2 linked regions of the Homo sapiens genome follow. The protein of the gene in region 2 interacts with the protein of the main gene of each other region in a pairwise test. Each region holds a gene or a part of one and is shown on either strand. Other genes may lie near its edges.

Region 1 (6,989 bases), on a different chromosome or scaffold from region 2:
AATAGAATAAATATACAAAAGCAACAACTGCCTACTATGCATACCTTAGATGGGTTTGGGAACATTTTTCTTCACTATATCTATTATTAATTATGTCAAAAGACTGTGATCAAGGTGTAATTTTTTTAAAAAGCAACGAAAGGCAGCTTAATACAAGCTGTGAAATCCTAATTAATCTGCTAACTTATCTAAACAAAATTTAGAATCATATTATATACATGATTTTAAACTACATTCTAACTTACATAATTTTGCTTATAAGATTATGATTTATGTTACTTTTACATTATAGCTATCACATATTCAACTACATATACCTATTTACATATGACATCTGGTAAGAAATGAAGAAATGCTCTTAAATACTTCGTAATGAATAAAAGTTACTTTCTGAGGTTTTAATACTACCTTACTACAAACAGAATCTAAACTAGACAATGAAAAACTAAGCAATTTCTTTTTTTTTTTTTTTTTGGTCACTCTTCCGGTTAAATTACTGTTTCAAAACAGAATAGGAATTTAGAATTTTATTAGTGAATCTTTTTCTTTCTCTAAGGTCTTTATAACAGATTAAGGAAAAGTACACAGATTCCTGTAAACATTTTTTTTTTTTTATTCCAGGCCTGGCAGTTTTCTAACAACTGAATTACAATTTAAATAACTTGTTACATTTTAAATAGTCCCATTTTAATGCAACTCTTAGAAAAGACCAAAAAAAAAAAAAAAAAAGTTAATCACCCTTCAACTTCTAAACCTTTAAAACTTTCCATTTCTTTAAACATTTCCTCCTTACTTTTAGGGAATCCTTCCTCCTCACAACAGCACAAAATACAGTGTCAATGAACAAATTTAAATTGTATCAAATTTTAAAATCCTGTGGGTCTTACAATACTCTATATAGAAATGGTTGTTTCCTCTCTCAACTGAAAAAATTAGAAGTATTAAATTCATGCAATATATCAATAAAGTTTGATTAAATCGCCAAGAGCCTGAACTTACTTATAATGCTAGGCATTCTCCATTACTTCCAAACAAAATCTTTCTGATAACCAATACATTAACAAAATATTTGAAGTCATCTTAGCACTTCTAATCTACACATGCTTTGAATTCATAAATTTACACGATTATCTGAAAGTCTGGTGTCACTTAAGTGGGAAAAGGGAAAGTTGAAATATTTTAAACTACACTTAGTATTCTCACAACCACAAACAAACTGAAATCAAATGTCATGTGAAACACCCCAATTTCCTTTTCTGCCTACAGCAATAGCTATGGCATTGTTCTGCTCAACCTTTTAAAAAGGTTCTTTAAGCTTCCTACTTCCTCATCTCTACTAGACATCAGCCTACTTCTGAGGGTCACTGGACCAGGCAGTTTGGGGATAAGAGTCAAGTTCATAAACGGGGCCCCCTCTTCATTCTCTTAGTACAGCATTTAACATGCATTTAGCCCTCCCTGCCTTTGCTCACGCTGCTTCCTCTGTCTGGAAAGTGTCCCCCACTCACCTTGCCAAAATCCTGGTAAAAGACCAACTCGACCCCAGGCTACTTGATTTATCCCCCCGCCCCGGCTCTCCCGTCCCCCTCAACCTTAAGCTCCAGGCAGCCCCAACCACATCTGTGTATATAGGAGACTTTCTTGCTCTGCAATGTTTCTTACAAACTTATTCCCCCCCAAAGGGAGAGATCGAGCATTTATTAAGGGAAAATATATAGTCACATAAGTGATAAAGTTGTATTCATTCCTACTCATTATTTTAAAGCTCGGATATTCTAAAACTCCTCTTTCCCCTTATTTCCAGCGAGGAGGAAGGGGGATTCAACGTCTCTATTCGTCAGATTAGGAACCTTGAGCTTTATCTCACAGTAAAAACTACATTTTTTTTTTTTTTAAATAGAGACAGGGTCTCCCTCTGTCGCCCAGGCTGGAGTGCAGGGGCGCGATCTCGGCTCACTGCAACCTCCACCTCCCAGGTTCAAGCGATTCTCCTGCCTCAGCTTCCCGAGTAGCTGGGATTACAGGCGCGCGCCACCACGCCCCGCTGATTTTTGTATTTTTAGTAGAGACGGGGTTTCACCATGTTTGCCAGGCTGGTCTCAAACTCCTGACCTCTGGTTATCCACCCGCCTCGGCCTCCCAAAGTGCTGGGAATACAGGCATGAGCCACCGCGCCCGGCCTACACTTGGTCGAAGCAACATTAACACTTAAAATACCACGGATTTTCTAATTCGTGTTAAAATACCACGGATGATTTTTAAAGCCGTGACACATTTTGTACAACTGTCAGTACAAGGGGGATCACCTCTTTGCATTTGATGAAATTAAACTAAAAAGGGGGAGAGAGCTTGCCCGAGGTCTGAAGGTTCCTCATTCCTGTTCTAAAACATAAAACCACCATCTTCAATACATATACATTTTTAATGAGAACTCTTCGTCCTCCTTTGGTTCGCTTATGACTTCCCTAATCCTAAAATCAAGTCGTTGGGAATTTCTAAGGTTCCTGCTATGACAACAGGATCGAATTACAGAGCGTGGCTTGGATTCTGCACGCAAACCCTGAAGCAGGTAACTTTTTTAAAAGCTGACAATTTTACCATATGAGATTTTAAAGACAGAACGCGCCCCAGCAAAAACTGAGCTCCCTAAACTCACTGCGGCAGGACCCCCTTCAGAAGAGCTCCTTTCCCCCGGCCCAGGCCCGCGCCCCATGAACACTCACCGGAGGCCATGGCTCCGCTCCCCGCACCTTCCCGCAGGCAGCTCCCAGCGTCCTGGCCGGAGGCGGCCGCAGTCAGTCAGTCAGGAGGCCGAGGGACCTCTGCCGGCGGGGCCCCCAGTCCCCCGACCACCCTAGAGGCCTCCTCCTTCTTCCCGCCCTCCGCTGGGTTTGCGGCTCACACCTTCCCAACCCCTGAATTCTTGCACCCCGGGTCACCCAGCGTCGCCGTCCACCGTACGGGAGCCAGGGGCAGGGGGCGGAGCGGGGAGAGCCGAGTGCTGGCCCAGCCGAGAGGCGAGCAGCCTGGCGGGAGGGGAATTTCCCGCGGCTGACGTAGGCCCGACGCAGCAACCCTCACCCGGAGGCGTGGGCGGGGCGACCTCGCGGCCGCCGCGCGCGCGACCGCCCCCAGCGCCCCGCCCCTGCCTGTCCCCGCGCACGCTCCCCGCCGGCCCCCACGCATACGCCCCCGGCGCTGCTGCGGCGGCTGGCTTGGGAGGGGGTCGAGGGAGCGGGAGCTTGGGGTGGGCTTCGGGAGCGCAGGGAACGGCGGGAGCCGGGAGGTGACGGCTAGCAGCGTGAGAAGGCCGCTGGCTCCTGAGAAATCCCCCTCCTCCAGGTTGTTCTTCCGAGTGTGGTTTAAAGTTCAGGAGCGGGCGGGAGGGTGCGGATGACGTAGAGAGGGCCGGCCGCTGGGGAGCTTTTGGGGGCGCGCGGGGCCGACTCTCCCGGCCTGGGAGGGCGACGGCCGGGGTTTTCGAGAGGTGGTTCCCCCTCTTCCCGACTTCGCACATGCAAATCTCCACCCCCGCGCCAGCGGCGGGACGTTGCGCCCTGTAGGGGGAAGTGGTGCTGCGGCGGGGGTCCTGTCTTCTTCTGTAATTCCTGTATTTGCATACGGGGACCCCCCCCCCGACTGATTTTTTTTCCTCCATCTAAATTGCGAGGGTACTGTGAACTTTACGTATTTTACCTACTGAAACCCGTTTAAACTCAAAAGGTCCGCACTTGGAGTTCGTTGTCTCATTAGGCAGTGCACTGAAGTTTAGTGGACACTATATCCTGAGATTTCACACAGATGCCAAGAAAGGCGGAAATGGAGCACACATTTAGTGCATTAAAGGACCTAGGATAACTTCGTTTCCTTCATTTGAATAGTACCTGCTATGCATCAGATAATGTCCATACTTAATCTATGACGTATTTATTATTCCTAACTTTATAGATGAAGTATTCGGGGTTCAGAGAAGTTACTTCAACATACAGTACTTCAGAATGCTGATAAAAGGCACAGTTTAAAGCCAGGGTTGTCTGACTCCAAAGCTCCATGCCCTTGCCCCTGTCCCTTACTAGTTAAAATTAGTACGGAGAGGTAATGGGGAATATCAGCCTGCCATACAAGTGCCCAAAACTGGGGGACCCATATGGGCAAATAATTTAAAATATCCTGCCAACCCCAAACTGTTCTTTCCACGAAATGCGCAATGTACAACAAAAGAATGAAACAGTTTTATTATTGGATATGTACTAAAACGTACCATGATGCACATCACAGGCAATCCACTGAAGAGAGTGCAAAGACCAAAAAAAAGGAAATCTCACCTTTTCATATGGTCAGGCACGTACAATCCATTACATACCTATTAATTGTCTTTATCCAAAGGAAAATAATGGGAAGTTATCTTGGAACCAAGAGCCAAGGCTTAAACCCTCCTAGAGACAGAAACATGGAGCACCATCCTTGATGTTCACATTTCCAAGAGATGGCTCCGAGGCCCGCAAGAAAGACCTTCTGAGGACGCAAAACTAGCAAGAGGCTTATTTAGCTTTTTAAAATATGTACATACATTTCAAAGAGACGGAAAACATTTTCAGTTCTCTGAAGGAATTTCAAAATGAAAAGTGACTGGGGGAGAGGAAAGTTCTGAGGAGGTGACATTTGAGCTGAGTCCTCAGTTTAAGAAAGAGCCGGCCAGGCGCAGTGGCTCATGCCTGTAATCCCAGCACTTTGGGAGGCTGAGGCAAGTGGATCACGAGGTTGGGAGTTCAAGACCAGTCTGGCCAAGATGGTGAAACCCCGTCTCTACTAAAAATACAAAAATTAGCCAGGCGTGGTGGCGGGCGCCTGTAACCCCAGCTACTCAGGAGGCTGAGGTAGAGAATTGCTTGAACCTGGGAGGCGGAGGTTGCGGTGAGCCGAGATCATGCCACTTGCACTCCAGCCTGGGCGACAGAGCGAGACTCCGTCTCAGAAAAAAAAAAAAAAAAAAAAAAAGGCCATTCACAGGGAGATTCAGGGAAAGAACATTCCAGCTGGGGGAACAGCAGGCAGCAGGTCCTTGAGATAGGAAAGAGCACAGTCAAGAATTGTCCCTCATCCTCATGACCTTCAAACGTCTCATCAAACATTCACTTTCATGTAGTTGAAATGCCTATTTTAATAATATATGGTTAGAACACAACTCCCTTTCATATATAGATATAAAATATTTTTGTATGGTTTTTAATATATACTGAATTTCCCAGGAATGCAAATATTGTATAAATTGAGGGCAGACTTTTATTAAAAAATGTTTTAAAAGTTGGAAAATTGTAACTCTGACAGCTCATCAATACAACACAGTATGCCAGCTGTGGTGGCTCACACCTGTAATCCCAGAACTTTGGGAGGCCGAGGCGGGTGGATTACCTGAGGTCAGGAGTTCAACACCAGCCTGGGCAACATGGTGAAACCCTGTCGCTACTAAAAATACAAAAATTAGCTGGGCGTAGTGGTGTGCTCCTGTAATCCCAGCTACTTGAGAGGCTGAGGCACGAGAATCGCTAGAACTGGGGAGGTGGAGGTTGCAGTGAGCCGAGATCACACCATTGCATTCTAGCCTGGATGACAGAGCAAGACTGTGTCTCAGAAAACAAACAAACAAAAAACCACAGTAGTATCAGGCTGCATTTGCAGCACTTGCATTCACACTGATTCTAGGTACAAGTACAAACATCTGGCAACTTCATTATGTCTTTTTTTTTTTTTTGGAGACAGGGTCTTGCTCTGTCACCAAGGCTGGAATGCACTGGCATGAACACAGCTCACTGCAGCCTCCACCTCCTGGGCTCAAGCTATCCTCCTACCTCATCCTCCCAAACAGCTGGGACTACATGCCCGTGCTACCACACCCAACCCATTATGTCTTTTTTTTTTAAGAGACGGGGTCTTGCTATGTTGCCCAGGCTGGTCTCGAACTCCTGGGCTCAAATGATCTTCCCGCCTCAGCCTCCCAAAGTGCCGGGATTATAGGCATGAGCCACTGCATCTGGCCCCATTATGTCTTTTGATGTAGTTATGCCCAAGCATTTACATACTGTAGTCGATATTATTTTCCTAGAAATTGCTTTCTTTTTAATTCTTGATATTGCTGTTAGAACATAATTTTTATTTATTTGAAAATATTCATGTAAGGTAGATTATGAATTTCACTTCAACCTACTAAAGGGGATGTTACAAATATATGTTATAAAACAGTGGGCACTGATCTGAAAGGGCAGAGAACCTTTAGAACCTTTAGAACTGTTGATGCTAAAGAACTTACCTTAAACATATGAAAAAAAATTTTTTAATGATGCAGCAGTTAAAAAGTCACAATCCTCCAGGAAAGAAACAAATCTGATTAGCAAATGGATGTGTTCTGAGTCTGTGATCGCAGAATATGAAAAAGTAAGAGTGAGGGGTCAAAAGTGAAATTGCTCCATAAGATATTTTTTTGTTGTTGAAAGAACAAGACACCCATCATTAAATTGAATGGATACAGTTAACAACAGTTTCAGAATAAAATCAAACGTTGTGGTCACCATAGGTTCATAGAACTGGAACAAACATATATTATTTTGGCATTCTTGAGCTTTCCCAGGCAGTAACTAAAGGTGACCGAAGTCATCATCCTAGGGGCATGCTAGTATTTGTTTAGGTCTGTTAGTGTGGGGCATGGATAAAATAATGTGTGCTCAGTATCTGCAGTAGTTACAGGCCAAGGCTGAAGCCTAGTGGAGAACAGGGCTCAGAGAAGCCTCTTCAGAGTGTCATCAAGGAGAGTCTTTGTAACCCACTACCCGGATTAAGATACAGAACGCTTCTAGCCAGCCACTCAGAAGGCTGCCTCGGAGCTGCTTCTAGTCAATATCCACCCCCAAAAGGCACCCGATATTCTGACCTCCTTGACAATAATTAGTTGTATCTGTTTTTGAACTTGATATGAATGGATTCATACAGTGTAT
Region 2 (7,095 bases):
TTGTAAGTGCGAACATGCAGCATTTGGTTTTCTGTTTGTGGATTAATTTGTTTAGGATTATGGCCTCCAATTGTGTCCATATTATTGCCAAGGACATAATTTTATTTTTTTATGGCTGTGTAGAATTCTGTGTTATATATATATACCACATTTTCTTTATCCAATCTGCCACTGATGGGCACTTGAGTTATTTCCATGTATTTGCTATTGTGAATAGCACAGCAATGAGTGTATGAGGGCATGTGTCTTTTTGGCAGAATTTCTTTTCTTTTGGGTATATACCCAGTAATGGAATTGCTAGGTTAAATGGTAGCTCTGTTTTAAGTTCTTTGAGAAATATCCACACTGCTTTCCACAATGGCTGGAGTAATTAATATTCCCACCAACCGTGTATAAGCATTCTCTTTCCTCTATAGTCTTGCCAGCATGTTATTTTTTGACTTTTTAATAATAACCATTCTGACTGGTGTGAAATGGTATCTCATTGTGGTTTTGATTTGCATTTCTCCGATGATTAGTGATATTGAGCGTTTTTTCGTATGCTTATTGGCTGCTTGTATGTTCTTTTGAGAAGTGTGTATTTATGTCTTTTGCTCTTTTTTTAGTGGGGTTGTTTCATGCTTGTTTGATTATTTAAGGTCGTTACAGATTCTGCATATTAGTCCTTTGTTGAATGCATAGTTTGTGAATATTTTCTCTCATTCTGTGGATTGTCTTTTTACTCTGTTGCTAGTGCAGAAGCTTTCTGTGCAGAAGCTCTTTAGTCCCACTCGTCAATTTTTGTTTTCGTTGCCATTACTTTTGAGGACTTAGTCATAAATTCTTTCCCCAGGCCAATGTCCAGAATGGTGTTTCCTAGGTTTTCTTCTAGGATTCTTATAGTTTGAGGTCTTACTTTTAAATCTTTAATCCATCTTGAGTAAAGTTTTGTATATGGTTAATGTTAAGGGGCCAGTTTCTTTCTTCTGCTTATGGCTAGACAGGTATCCCAGCACCATTTATTGAATAGAGAATCCTTTCTCCATTGCTTATTTTTGTTGACTTTGTCAAAGTTCAGATGGCTGTAGATGTGTGGCTTTATTTCTGGGTTCTCTATTATGTTCCAGTGATCTATGTGTCTGTTTTTGTACCAGTACCATGATGTTTTGGTTACTGTAGCCTGTTGTACTTTTAAACTATTTTGGTAGTCTTGTATACATAAAGCAATGTTCATGGAACCTTTCTATTTTAACTAGTTTGATATATATTTTGTTCCTTGACATAGAACAGATAATATATGTTACACTTTATGTATTCTAAATATTTGACATGTAATTAAATTTAAGTGAATATTTTGCATGCTCATATTATTATTACTGTTGCCAAAGACTGTTTACACTTCTAATAAGAAAGAATGTTACATCAGCCAAACTAAATGGCCACAGTAGACATGTTATTTGATATCCTGCACTGAGTAGTGGGTTTTTAAAAAAATTTGTATGTAAGAAAATTATTATGCTATAGATTATTTCAAATCAAGTGTTATAAAATATTCCTAAGCCTTCTTAGAATAGCTATATACACTTTTCTAGAAAATTGGTGGAAATTATCTTTTGGTATAAACTTTGTATATGTTTATAGCATTAACTTACAACTCCTAGTCTAATGATTTATGTGTGATTTGCATGCAGTAAATTTTATTAAAGGAATGAATTAACTAGTTGCCTGTTAATGAGAATGATGTAACAAAAGACTAGGTGAAGTAATTAAATTTTCATGAAGCAGTATCTATGATCAGGCACATCCTTCCCTATATTGTTACATGCCATATTCATAGGCTTATTCAATTGTGTGTTTTGAGAATTTTGTATTAATAGGGCGTTAGATTGTAAGTGTCTTGAAGGGGGATCTTTTTTGTGGCACAGACGCTGATATGTTATAGGCAATTATTAAATGCTTATTGAGTGAATAAACATGGTTTGCTCCTTTGATTTGGGTTTTTTTAAATCTAGTGGTTGGTCTTGGGGGTTTTGTTTGTTTTGGCAGCAAAGGTCTGGCAGAAAATGTATGAGGAGGTATTATAGAACTCTTAGGATAGAAGACAAGAATACTTTTTTGTACATGCTGTTTTTTAGAAATATTCTTCAAAATGAATGGGAGTGTTTTAAAAAGGAAGTACTGAGGGGAGCTGACATATAACATGCAGGGTGGAAGGAAGTGTGTAAAAAATAGTCATAAGTTAGTGGGCACAAAAGAGCCTGTCACACCATGCTCCTTTCTCCAGGAGGATCTCTTCTCTCTACTTTGGATGAGAGAAAACCATGGGCTTACTCTAAAAAGTACTGTGTCCCTGCTTAATATAGTCAGAGGGAGGATGTCACTTATTTCATAGTTAAACTTGTCATTGCATCCTGTACACATATAAAAGTAGAAAATAAAATGAAGTATTGTCTTTTATACCTTGGGGGACTGTGACTCAGTGCTGGATTTTTAGTCAAGAACCGATGCGTACACTTTAATAATTTAATACAGAAATAACCCAGAGTAGTTTTTACGCTAATAAAAGGATATTTCTTGAAGCCTGCTGGGGATTTTTTTTTTTATCACCAAACCAGCTCAGTGTTTATTGATTAAGAGAGTTCTTTGTCAGTCTTTGAATTCTAATAGTTTTACACAAAAATAAATAAATTCTTACTAAAAATATGTTACAAGGCATCCATCCCTATATATTGTGAAATTGTACTTGACTGCAGTGGTAAACACATGTAAATAAAAAGGAAAATCCTCTGTACCTGTTAGAGCACTGGGAAAAGCATAGGTCAACAGTATGCATTTTAAGTCATGAAATAGTCTTAATTCAACAGAACAGTGATTTTTCTGGTAACAGTAATTTGACATTACTAGTGATTTGAAGTGAATTGAGCCACTGCAAGACACTCAATTTATGAAAAATTTCTCCTGCCCATGTAAAATTAACTATGCTTAATGGTTCTAAGATTATAATATTCATGTCTATGTTGAAATAATCCAATTTAAATATATCCTGTCGTTAAGACAAATACCTAGTTGACAGAAAAAAGAAGCAAACTAATCTTCTATCTGTTTTGTAGTGAGCTGATCCAGTTTATTACAACTGGTCCTATTATTGCCATGGAGATTTTAAGAGATGATGCTATATGTGAATGGAAAAGACTGCTGGGACCTGCAAACTCTGGAGTGGCACGCACAGATGCTTCTGAAAGCATTAGAGCCCTCTTTGGAACAGATGGCATAAGAAATGCAGCGCATGGCCCTGATTCTTTTGCTTCTGCGGCCAGAGTAAGGTGTTTTAAAAATATTTTAATGCTCTTCTAGTTCTGTTAAATGTTTTATATCAAAGGAAAGCATTTCTATCACTGGTGACTTAGGGTGGATTTATGCTGCTGCTCTAGTAGTAGAGAAAACCTTTGACATCTTGCCTACTATCAAACAGTGATTCAGTGTGTCTCCTTTGTGAACTGGTAACCTGATCATGATCAACGTAAGTTTTCTCCAATTAAAACACTTCTCATCCTGTTTCTTGTTCCCAAGACTTAAATTACTGAGGCTCCTAAATGTTTGAATTATTGAATTCATGTAAGAATACCAGTTTATGGCTAGTAGATATTAAAAAGAAGATATAATTTGAGATATTTCCTTTTGATTCAGACGTAACACTGTGCTTTCAAGCTTAACATCCTATTATTTTCCTATATATAGCTAGTGTTTATGAAAGTTTCTCTACTCCTTATTTTTAAATCCATATAAATAAAGCATTTATTGGATTTATACTGAGGTTGAATTAAAGAAGTGTAAGTTTATTTTTAGCATCGTGAGAAGTGTCTCACTTAAGGTAGTTTTTAATCTGGTTGTGTTTGCAATGAAACAATATTAGACAGTTTTATAATTGATTTCTTTCTTTTTCCTACCATTTCATCAGCAAGTCCCTTCAGCTCTTTCAAAATAAACCCTGAATCTGATCATTGTGGTCTGAATCACTATTATATTTTGCCAGAACTGCTACAATAGCCTCCAAATTCTTTTTTCCTCTTTTCTTACACTCAATTAATGAAAATTTTACCTTACCCAAGTAAAATCAGCTATGCCCAGTGATCTTTTAAAGACAAATCAGATTAACATTCACCTGCTGAAAACCCTTCAGTGAATTTCTGTCTCTTCTAGAATAAAATCTAAAGTCTTTATTGTGGCCTCCAATGCTCTATCTAGTCTGGCCCATATCTATCTCTAACTGTATCTTTGATCAATCTCTATCTTAATCATTGTGTTCCAGGCACACTAACCATCTCGCTATTCCTTGAATAGCATATTTCTGTCTGGAATGGTCAACTAACAGCAAAGAGGACAGTGTGGTTGGATAGGAATGAGAGAGGGAGGAAGAGGGTGATGAGGTTACAGAGGTAATTAGGGGAAAGATTATATGGTCTTATAGGCCGTAGTAGTACTTTTAGATTTTTCTCTGAAAAAATAGAGAGCCATTTTAGGGTTTTGAACAAAGGACTGATATCTTCCACTTGCCATTTAAAAGGATCATTCTGGCTGTTGCATTAAGAATGACTATAGAGGCTGGGAGTGGTGGCTCACACCTGTAATCCCAGCACTTTGGGAGGCCAAGGCGGGCAGATCATTTGAGGCCAGGAGTTCGAGACCAGCCTGGCCAATATGGTAAAACCCTGTTTCTACTAAAAATACAAAAATTAGCTGGGTGTGGTGGCGCCCACCTGTAATCCCAGCTACTCCAGAGGCTAAGGTGGGAGAATTGCTTGAACCAGGGAGGTGGAGGTTGCAGTGAACTGAGATCATGCCACTGTGCTCTAGCCTGGGTGACAGAGTGAGACTCCATCTCGGGGGAAAAAAAAAAGAATGACTATAGAGGGCAAAAACAGCAACAGGGAGCCTAATCAGGAGTCTGTTGGAATAACCCAGTGAGATGATGGCTTGGACCTGGGTGGTAATAATGAAAGAAGTATACAAATATATTTTAAAATATATATTAACGGTTGAAGGTCAAATAAACAAGATTTTCTGCTAGATTGAATGTAGAGTATGAGAAAAAGATACCAAGTATTACTCCAAAGTTCTTAGCCTGATTATCAGAAGGATAGAATTTACGTAAACTGAAATGAGGAAAACTGTGGCTAGAGTCAGAATGAATGGACAATCAGGAGTTAACGTTTTGGACATTTATAAACTTAACCTGTTTGTTAGTTTTCCAATTAGACTGATGAAAAAAATTAGTGTGACAGCTTAGAGTTATCAGCACATAAATGGTATTTAAAGCCGGGAGACTGGTTGAGATTACCAAGGAGAAGGTATAGATAGAGAAGTAAAGAGGACCAAAGATGAAGCTACATCTTGATAAAAGGTAAGGAGAAGAAGGCAGCAAAGGAGGTTGAAGAGGAGCCACCAGAGAGGTAAGAGGAAAAACTGAGAGATAATTATGTCCTGGAGGCCAAGTGAATCAAATATTCTAAAATGAGAGAATGACCAGTGGTGTCAAATAAGGCAAGTAAGAAGAGGACTAAGAATGGATTGTTAAATTTTGCAATGTGGATATCATTGGTGAACTTTGTAAGGTGAATGTTGATGGGGAGGTGGAGGCAAAACCCTGTGTGGAGTAGACTTAAAAGAAAATTGTGGGACGGGAATTGTAGTTAGTGAATATAGACAACTTTTTTTTTGAGGAGTTTTTTTGAGGAGTTTTCCTGCAAAGAGATGAGGTGGTAGCTGTCAAGAAAAGTAGTATCAATTTTTTTTAAGAGGAGAGGTATTGGGTAAAAAATTGATGATGTAGGAAAAAGAGGAAGACTTGTTGGAGCAATTTCATTAATTAGGCAAAAGGAAATGGAAATTAGAACCCAGGTGGAGAGATTAGGCAGGTGTGCCTCTCAGGTACTCGTCTATAGCAACAGATGGGAAGGGAGAATATGTGAACACAGATGCTGATTCTTAAGTAGGAAGCAAGATCAAAACAGCTGAAAGTGAGGATGAGGTATAAGGTATTGGTTGGTCTGAAGGGAGAGAAGAATATGTGAAATGGTGATCTGGAAAAGGAATAGATCAGGGAAATGTGGTGTGTGATTGCTATACTGAATTAATGGCCCATGTAGTGTTCATGGCCATGAACTATGAGTGTGGTTCTCCAGCCTGTTCAACTGCATGGCTGAAGGTAAGGAGTAGGTGGAGAGCTGGCTTTTAACCATGGCTGTGGTTTTGTGAAACAAATGTGACGGAAGTGTTAAGGAAGTTAAAGATACATGCAAGAGAGCAATTATAGTCTTTGACCATATCTTAGTAGTAGACATTTATTGTAAATGTGGTATTGTTTTGTATAGTTAAATTTCCAATCATATTTTAAAGCATTATAAAAATAATAAACATATCTAATTAATGAAGGAAATAATTGAGGCTGAACTGAAAGTCACTACCATGTTTACTGATATTTCCTGCCTATTTCACCCTATTACCACCTTATGCCATCCATTTCTTTTTTATTTCTACTAGATTATTTAATAAATTTGAGCATAAATATACTTGTTAGATTTTAGCATATCTTGTAGTGGAGCAACTTTTGTTAAGTTAGCTACTGTCTCAGTCCATTTTGTGTTGCTGTGAAGGAATACCTGAGGCTGGGTCATTTATAAAGGAAAAAGGTTTATTTGGCTCATAGTCCTGATGGCTGGGACATCAAGATTGGGCATCTGCATCTCGTGAGGGTCTCAGGCAGCTTCCACTGCCTGAGGTGGAAGGTAAAAGGGAGCCTGCGTGTGCACAGATCACATGGTAAGAGAAGAAGCAAGCCACCGGGAGAGGTGTCAGGCTGTTTTTAACAACCAGCTTTCAGAGGAACTAATAGAGGGAAAATTCGCTCACCTTGGAGGGAGGGCATTAATCTATTCATGGGATTTACCCCTACTATCCAAACCTCCCATTAGGCCCTATCTCCAACATTGGGGATCAAATTTCAACGTGAGATTTGGAAGGAACAAACATCCAATCCAGAGCAGCTACCATTGCCATTTCACCTAAAGAAATGTCTTAAACATATTCGTTTATATTTTGTGCATTTAATTTTTTTAA

The links. Proteins that work in one complex are often made in the same cells at the same time.
Region 1: the proteins of NME7 (region 2) and REL interact in binary tests that used the Homo sapiens proteins (3 or more experiments, as listed by UniProt).

What each region holds. Positions count from the first base shown.
Region 1 is NC_000002.12:60,877,585-60,884,573, reverse strand, and holds the start of REL (proto-oncogene c-Rel), read right to left. Parts: upstream 3,001-6,989; 5' UTR 2,734-3,000; coding exon 2,724-2,733; intron 1-2,723. UniProt on the Homo sapiens protein: Proto-oncogene that may play a role in differentiation and lymphopoiesis.
Region 2 is NC_000001.11:169,294,758-169,301,852, reverse strand, and holds part of NME7 (nucleoside diphosphate kinase homolog 7), read left to right. Parts: intron 1-3,089; coding exon 3,090-3,297; intron 3,298-7,095. UniProt on the Homo sapiens protein: Possesses an intrinsic kinase activity. Displays 3'-5' exonuclease activity with a preference for single-stranded DNA. Does not seem to have nucleoside diphosphate kinase activity.